2 linked regions of the Homo sapiens genome follow. The protein of the gene in region 1 interacts with the protein of each later gene in a pairwise test. Each region holds a gene or a part of one and is shown on either strand. Other genes may lie near its edges.

What was found.
Region 2: the proteins of CDCA7L (region 1) and GPRASP3 interact in binary tests that used the Homo sapiens proteins (3 or more experiments, as listed by UniProt).

The regions. Positions count from the first base shown.
Region 1 is NC_000007.14:21,904,247-21,907,901, reverse strand, and holds part of CDCA7L (cell division cycle-associated 7-like protein), read left to right. Parts: intron 1-1,262; coding exon 1,263-1,334; intron 1,335-1,445; coding exon 1,446-1,613; intron 1,614-2,270; coding exon 2,271-2,396; intron 2,397-3,642; coding exon 3,643-3,655. UniProt on the Homo sapiens protein: Plays a role in transcriptional regulation as a repressor that inhibits monoamine oxidase A (MAOA) activity and gene expression by binding to the promoter.
Region 2 is NC_000023.11:102,748,157-102,751,811, reverse strand, and holds part of GPRASP3 (G protein-coupled receptor associated sorting protein 3), read right to left. Parts: intron 3,114-3,655; 5' UTR 2,817-3,113; coding exon 1,173-2,816; 3' UTR 1-1,172. UniProt on the Homo sapiens protein: Survival and differentiation promoting protein that plays a role in the regulation of neurosynaptogenesis. Induces phosphatase PP2A activity which results in APP dephosphorylation and inhibits BACE1-mediated processing of APP.

The DNA of each region.
Region 1 (3,655 bases):
CCCTACATGGTGCCATAATGCTGCTTACTGTTGACCAAGCTAAGTTCTAAGTATATAGTTGTGTTGGGGATGAGAGGGGCTGAACAACTAGCCCGTTCCCAGCAGAGTAAAGCAGGGGAAGTGGGATGTCACCAAGTCCACTGAGAAGTTGCAAGGAGCAGGTTGGGCAGGTAGCTTTTCACCACAGAACCACTCTTCTATGGTGACCAGCACTGGTTCTGAGACTTCTGAAGGAATGGAAGAGGTCTAGGAATTAAAACAACCTCAACAGTGTTAATTCACTCTACATTGTCTTCATTAGAACAATGAATGGAACCAGGTGAAATCTTTGTTACATATATTTGGTTTTTCTGTATATAATCAATTACTGTTAATCTGATCATTGTAGAGAATCATTGTTTGCTTCATAATTGTTTATCTACAGTTTTTTTTTAAATAGTTCTACCACTTATCCCTTTTAGCATTTTGGTAATTTTTTAATCTTTTCCTTTTAAAAAAAGAATGATGCAGTGATACTGTATATGCAAGCTTATATGTCTAATATAAATTACTTACAAAAATGGAATGCCTACTTTCGGATTATTTTTATCCTAAGAAACATTTTTACTTAGCTAAGGGAAATTTTCAGCACTGTATCCATCTGCATCTTTAAAATAAGCTATTTTCTTTATGATTTTTTTGGTGGCACTCATATAATTGTATAAACTAAAACGAATCCTAATTAAATTCTCTGGCATATTAATGCCTATTATTTGGTATTATTAGTTCACGTAGGAATATCTTCATAGATTACTTTGATTGATGAGAAATTAATCTATTTAAAGAATCAGACTTTTGGAGTTCTAAATAACCATCGAAATAATCTAGTTGAGCTTTTTCTTTTTTGAACATCCTGAAACTTGAGACTCACGTGTGCAAAATGAATTGTCCCAGGGTCACACCGCCTTGGATTAGCCTCCGAGTCGGGATCGGAACCTCATGCTCCAGGTCTTGATCATTCCAGGACTGTTTTCATAGTGTTGTGTTGTCCTTATATATAAGGAATAGGCTAGTGTTCATTCATATGAATGATGACATCAGCATCTCAGGTCTGGAGGTACAATCTTTACATGTGAGGTTAAAAGTATAACTGTTGTGGGTTATATAAACTATTCAAGTTAGGTTTCTTATGGTGGCAAAATGGAAGACTTGAGATAGGTGTTGGATGACCTAAACCTGGAGCCCTATTTTTGTAAGATTCTTTCTTTTGTTCTGAACTTCAGCTTGCCCAGTTATTGGCGGAATTGAACTCGATGCCAGATTTCTTCCCAGTACGAACCCCAACCTCAGCTTCTGTAAGTAGAACTCCTTATAATTATACCAATACTGATATATGGTGATCAGCCACCAGACGGCTTTTATTCGAGAGAGTCCCCAGTTGTCTCTGTCTGTGCTCTTGATTTCAGAGGAAGAAGACAGTGAGGCGGGCCTTCTCGGAGGGACAGATCACGCGGCGTATGAACCCAACCCGGAGTGCGCGGCCTCCTGAGAAGTTTGCTCTAGAGAACTTCACTGTCTCAGCCGCTAAATTTGCGGAAGAGTTTTACAGCTTCCGAAGAAGGAAGACAATTGGGGTATTTTCTGACTAATACATGAATTAGTTTTTGTCTGAGCTACCATCCCTCCAAACGTGAACGCACGTCACTGTCACCCCAGGGCTGGTTCTGACCCCGTGGGTCTGCGGCAGCTGAGAACTTGCATTTCTCTCTGCTTCCCAGGTGATGCCATTGCTCCTGAGATCACACTTTGAGAAGCAGCCCTGGTCTAAGCTGGAGGTCACAGAGAGAGTCTTTTATCCAAGCCGAGCTGAGAAGCAGCTCATTTGTTAGGACCCTGCTTTAATCTCTGCTGCAGGCAATAAAGAAAAGTGCAGTGATTCCTCCTTGCCTTTCTGTTTTAGGCATGAGGCGTTTCAAGCGCTTTCAGTTTGGAGGGAGCAACTGTGGACCCATTTGTGGGTTTGGCTGTTCAGTGTGGTTCACCTCTCCACAGAGTTTACAGCAAAGAACCAAAAACCTTGAGTTCCTCCTTTATGATTGTATCGCCTTGCTGAGAAGGAAGCTTGGCAGGTGGCAGGAGCTCAGTAAATAACTAAATGAAATGGCTGCAGGGAAATAGAAGAGGGACGGGGTTAACATTAATGGTGCTAGATCTTTGAGAGTTTAAAATATTTATAATTTTTTTATAACTGCTCAACACATCTCCATGTTCTGCTTGTGTTCATTGTGCAGGGGAAATGCCGGGAGTACAGACGACGTCACCGTATATCTTCTTTTCGGCCAGTGGAGGATATCACCGAAGAGGACTTAGAAAATGTTGCCATAACTGTTCGAGATAAAATCTATGATAAAGTTCTGGTAAAGTATACATTAATTGTCATTCTTATTGGGAGTCGAAGGCATTGGTATTGAAATCTCACTTGTTTTTAAACTCTATCAGGGCTTATGCCATCTCACCAAGGGCTCAGAGCCAGGCTCTGAATTGGAGGGTCAAAAGTCAGCTGTACCTGGGAAAGGGGAGGCAGCCTAGTGCAGTAATTCCCATCTGGACGGCGGTCTCTCTTAGGGATGCGTAGAATCTGGGGGAAGGGAACGGTATAGTTTAAAAGGGATTTTTATATGTAACTGTTAATGGTTTAAGCATATAGTTTTATGTTCTAAATATTGAAAAAAGTATATTTGGGGGGTAATATAACCATAGAAATTAAAGTTTGGCAGAATATCTTTGGTAGGAAATGGGTTAAATTTCTTCTAAATGGTGATTTAGAGGGAGGCTTTGCGTTCTGCATTTTTTTTGTGTTTTTCTGGATATGTAACGGGACACTGTCAAGTTTTAAATTTAGTTGCCAATATTTAAAAAAAAATAGATCTCACATTGAAGGTATCCAGGTCTGCAGAGCTAGGCTGGGGCCGAGGTGATGCCACCCAAGGCTCATTGCCCCTCAGTCACCTGTCACCTTTCAGGGGCTCTGCCACCCCTGCCTCAAGCTTTTCTCTGGTCTCTCTTCCTGACAGCCTGATCATTTCATTCCTTCTGGGTCTCTGCTCAGCCTCATCTGACCTAATATGTTTCTCTGGCCACAGACCTGTGATGGTTACATTCTAGAGCAGTGGTCCCCAACCTTTTTGGCACCAGGGACTGGTTTTGTGAAAGACAGTTTTTCCATGGATTTGGGGGGCAGGAAGGGGATGGTTTCAGGATGAAACTGTTCCACCTCAGATCATCGGGCATTAGATTCTTATAAAGGGTGCACAACCTAGATCCCTCACATGTGCAATTCACAATAGAGGGTTTGTGCTCCTATGAGAATCTAATGCTGCTGCTGATCTGACAGGAGGCAGAGCTCAGGCGGTAATGCTCGCCCGTCCGCTGCTCACTTCCTGCTGTGCAGCCCGGTTCCAAACAGGCCACAGACTGGTTCTAGCCTGGGGGCTGGGGACCCCGGTCTAGAGACAATGCTGTGGTTCTTAGGAAAACAGTCCTGCTTGATTCGAGGAGACGGGGGTATTTCTTCATATACTTGGAAATGCACATGGTGGCATCTGGCCTCATTGGGCATCAGCATATCCCTGTGTTCACCTGCTCACTGCCTTCCCCCTGTAGGGTAACACGTGCC
Region 2 (3,655 bases), on another chromosome or scaffold:
TGATGACTCCAAATCTACATCTTACTCATTGAACAAAGTTTTAGGCTCCTACTATTTTCGACACTGCCAGATAAAATCCATCTATTTACCTCAGAATTTTCTCCTGACCTCCAGCCAGATGTAGCCAAATGTCTAATGGACACACGAATTTGGAGGAAGTTAAGAATTGTAACACCTGGCATGGACATGATCCATTGCAAAATTAAACCATTCAAACCAGTCTCTGAGCTTTGAAGGCCCCCCCACCTCAAAATGTCCTTCAGGAAGACTGTAAAGCAGTGTGGTGAGATGGGTTCTGGTGTCAGACAAAACAGCTATGCCACCTTCCTGCTGTGGGAATCTAGGAAAAGGTATTTAACCTCTCTAATTCTCATTGGAGGGTACCCAGAATAATGAGTTCTAATAAAAATATAAGTAACTAACTCACAAGATCACTGTGAGAAGAGGAAAAAAACTTGTAAAATATGGTGCCAACACAGTGTTTGACATAGAATAGGCACTCACAAAACGTTTCCTGCCTTCTCTTTTGTGAGATAACTTTGATGTAAATGAAACAGCCTAACAATTTAAGAGTTATGAATGTAGTAGCAAAATTAAAATTGAACAAATAATACATTTTGTCTGAGATTCTGAGTCATTTCTGTGTTGCGGAACGAGTATCTGATACAGCTGGAACAGGAGAAAAATAGTTTCTCTTACATTAAATAGCCTATAGGAACTCCTGCCTCCTTTATGTAGAGTGCGCACATTTGGCCATGAGCGTGCACGTGCACACACAGAGACACGCACACTCACACACACTCTCTCTCTAGGTACTGTTATCTTTGTGTGTGTGTATGCCTTACTTCTGTAACTAGATTACAAACTCAAGGATATTTTCTTTTTTGCCATTTTAAGCCACAGATACTAATGAACAAGTTAGCTTACTTAAAACGAACTGGTTTGCTATCTTAAGTAAAATGTTAAAAATATGCCAATCTAGACAAGATAAAAATCAAACATTTTCAGCCCAAGGTATAATATTCATTTGATACCCCCAAAATAGTCTAGCTCAAACCTAGAGCCTGTCACAGGTGACTCTGTGTTAAAGATGCAGTGTATAATGTGTACACTGTAATGTACAGCCTGCTAGAGTTTGAAGATGGCTTAAAATGTTCTATCTCTGGCTCATTTTACATTGTTTCAATAATCTCTTTAACTTCCCTGAAAATGGCCATGAGTGTATTATAACTCAAGTGATCAACAACTACAATTGAGCCTTTTCTGATATGCTCCTTTATGTTAATAAATATGGCCACACCACTAACAAGATTGGCTTTTGCCTCTTTCTGGTTAAAGATGAGTTTTAATGCTGCCAATGCCTTCATATTGATCATGTCTCTGGCTGCAGTTGGATTTTCAGACATATTTAAAAGTAGTTTCAAAACAAGATTTCTGGTTTTGCAATTTCCTGAGGACAGCAAATGGAAAAGCTCTGAAAAGTAATTGGCAACAATGTAGTGATGGACAAAATCAGTAGTCAGTTGTCCTAGTATCTTTAATCCAGATTGCTGTCCCGGTGAGTTCAAAGGAAATGACATGGTTTCTTTACACATATGCTTAACATGTAATTCAATTTTGCGTTGTCTTTCATCCCCAGAAGGAGGATTCAGAGTAATTACAGTCTTTTTTCTCATTTCAGGGGAAGGAAAACTGAGCAAGCTTTCAATAAGTGTCACTACACCTACTTCGTTAATAAACTCTTGGGCAAATGGGTGAACATTATGGACACCCATTGCAATCCGTGCTATTTTATGAATAAGAGGATCAGTAGTTGACTTAAGTAAGCTAACAAGTTTTTCAAATTCCTCAGAATCCATATAGCATTCCATTTTGCAAGGACAAGCAAATGGCTTAATCCCATTTACCTCCCTGATCCTGATTTGACGTCTAATCTCATCTATGGTCTGGATGCAGGGGTCAGAATCAAAACGACACTCAGGGATAGGCTGTGAGCATGAGCGAGTGTTCCTAGAAGGGCGGCAAGCTGTTGCCACAGGCAAAGAACAGGCATTTTCTTCAGCGGAGGCCAGAACAATATATGAAGGAGGGCTTGCCTCAGATGGTGCCTGGGATCTAAATCCTAACACAGCTGGAGTTACAGCAGGGGCATTGGGCCAGATAGTTACCTCAGACCAGTCCTTGGGCCTATTTTTTTCATTAATTTCATACACAGGCTGAGGCTTAACTATCCTGCTCACAGGTTTAGGATTAGGGTCAAAACTAGTATCATCTCCTTCCCAAAACCAGTTCCCAATAACATTCTCTTCCTCCTCCTCCTCAGCCCCTGACCTAGGTTTGCAATCGGCCCCAGCCGCAGGTTCCAACTCCTCAGCACAGACCTGGGCACCAATTTCAGGTTTATCATTCTTAGTGCTGAAACTATTACCAGCCTCTTCTCCATTCCAGAACCAGGAATTGATAGTGGCCTCTTCCCCAGCCCAGAACCAGGCATCAGTACCAGCCTCATTTTTACATGTGGAGCTGGTGGACTCATTCCCAGCCTTGGGAGTGAAATCTCCCATGGCTTTGCCCAGAGTCTTAGGCTCTGACAGAGCTCCTTCCTTCGTCTCAGCAACAACCTTGTTCTTAGACACTGCCTTCATCTCTGCTACTGCATCTGTCTTAGACCCTGTCTTGGCTTTTGCTTTGGCCCTGGTCTTGGCTACAGGCCTAACAACACCAGTAGCCTCCCTCTCTGCTCCAGCTTTAGCTTGTATAGCAGCCTTTTTTTCAGTTTTGGCCTGGGCTCTTGTCTTATTCTTAGTCCCAGCCATGGTTGAAGCCCAGTTATATGGCCCTGTCCAGTCTTGGCCTTGGTTCTCAATGTGTCCTAGGTCGAAGTCTTAACACTCTTTCACTGGGTCGGGGAAAAACTTGGTAGCAAGAATTAGAGTCAACTGTCAGTTCTGCAGTCACAAAGTTCTCTTTCCAAACATACAGCCTCTGTCAATGATACAGAGGGCAGAGGCACGCTCGGGCTGGGGGAGAATGATTGTTCCCAAGTGCAGACCTGCTGAAGGTGATGGTCTTCCAACAATCCAAAGCCACCACAGCCACCAGTGGAGATGGACCTGAGGTTGAAGAAAGAAACTGGCTTTGAGTCTTGTCTAACTGTGCTTCTCTATGCAAACAGCCACACAGAAGGACATAGGAGAGTAGAAATGAATTGTGTAGAAGTGGATTAATAAAAAACTCTGCTACTTAATTTTATACCTTGCACACTGCCACTAATGCTCAACAATGTCCTGCCCAAGCACTGTCATTCTTTTACTCTGCATCAAACAGGAACAAAGATGGCAGGTAAGCTTGCTGAGAGTGAGAAAGGCTAAAGGAGTGCCCAGTCTCTTTGGACCCATGCTAGTAGGTCCACCACTAAAATATATACCACTAGACCTCATAGGTGTATTCAGGCAGCACTCACACCAACCTGCACTGATCTAGTGCAATTTTTCCTCCTTCCCTGTTTGCAGTGTTGATATGCCCTATAGTTAACTCATGGGCAGGCCTATGGACAAAAATACAGATGGGATTGGAGTTCTGAGTATTTGGTTGACAGACCTACACTCTAATCTCTAAACCCAATTTCTGCCTTTCCAAATCTAGGGCTTTGGTT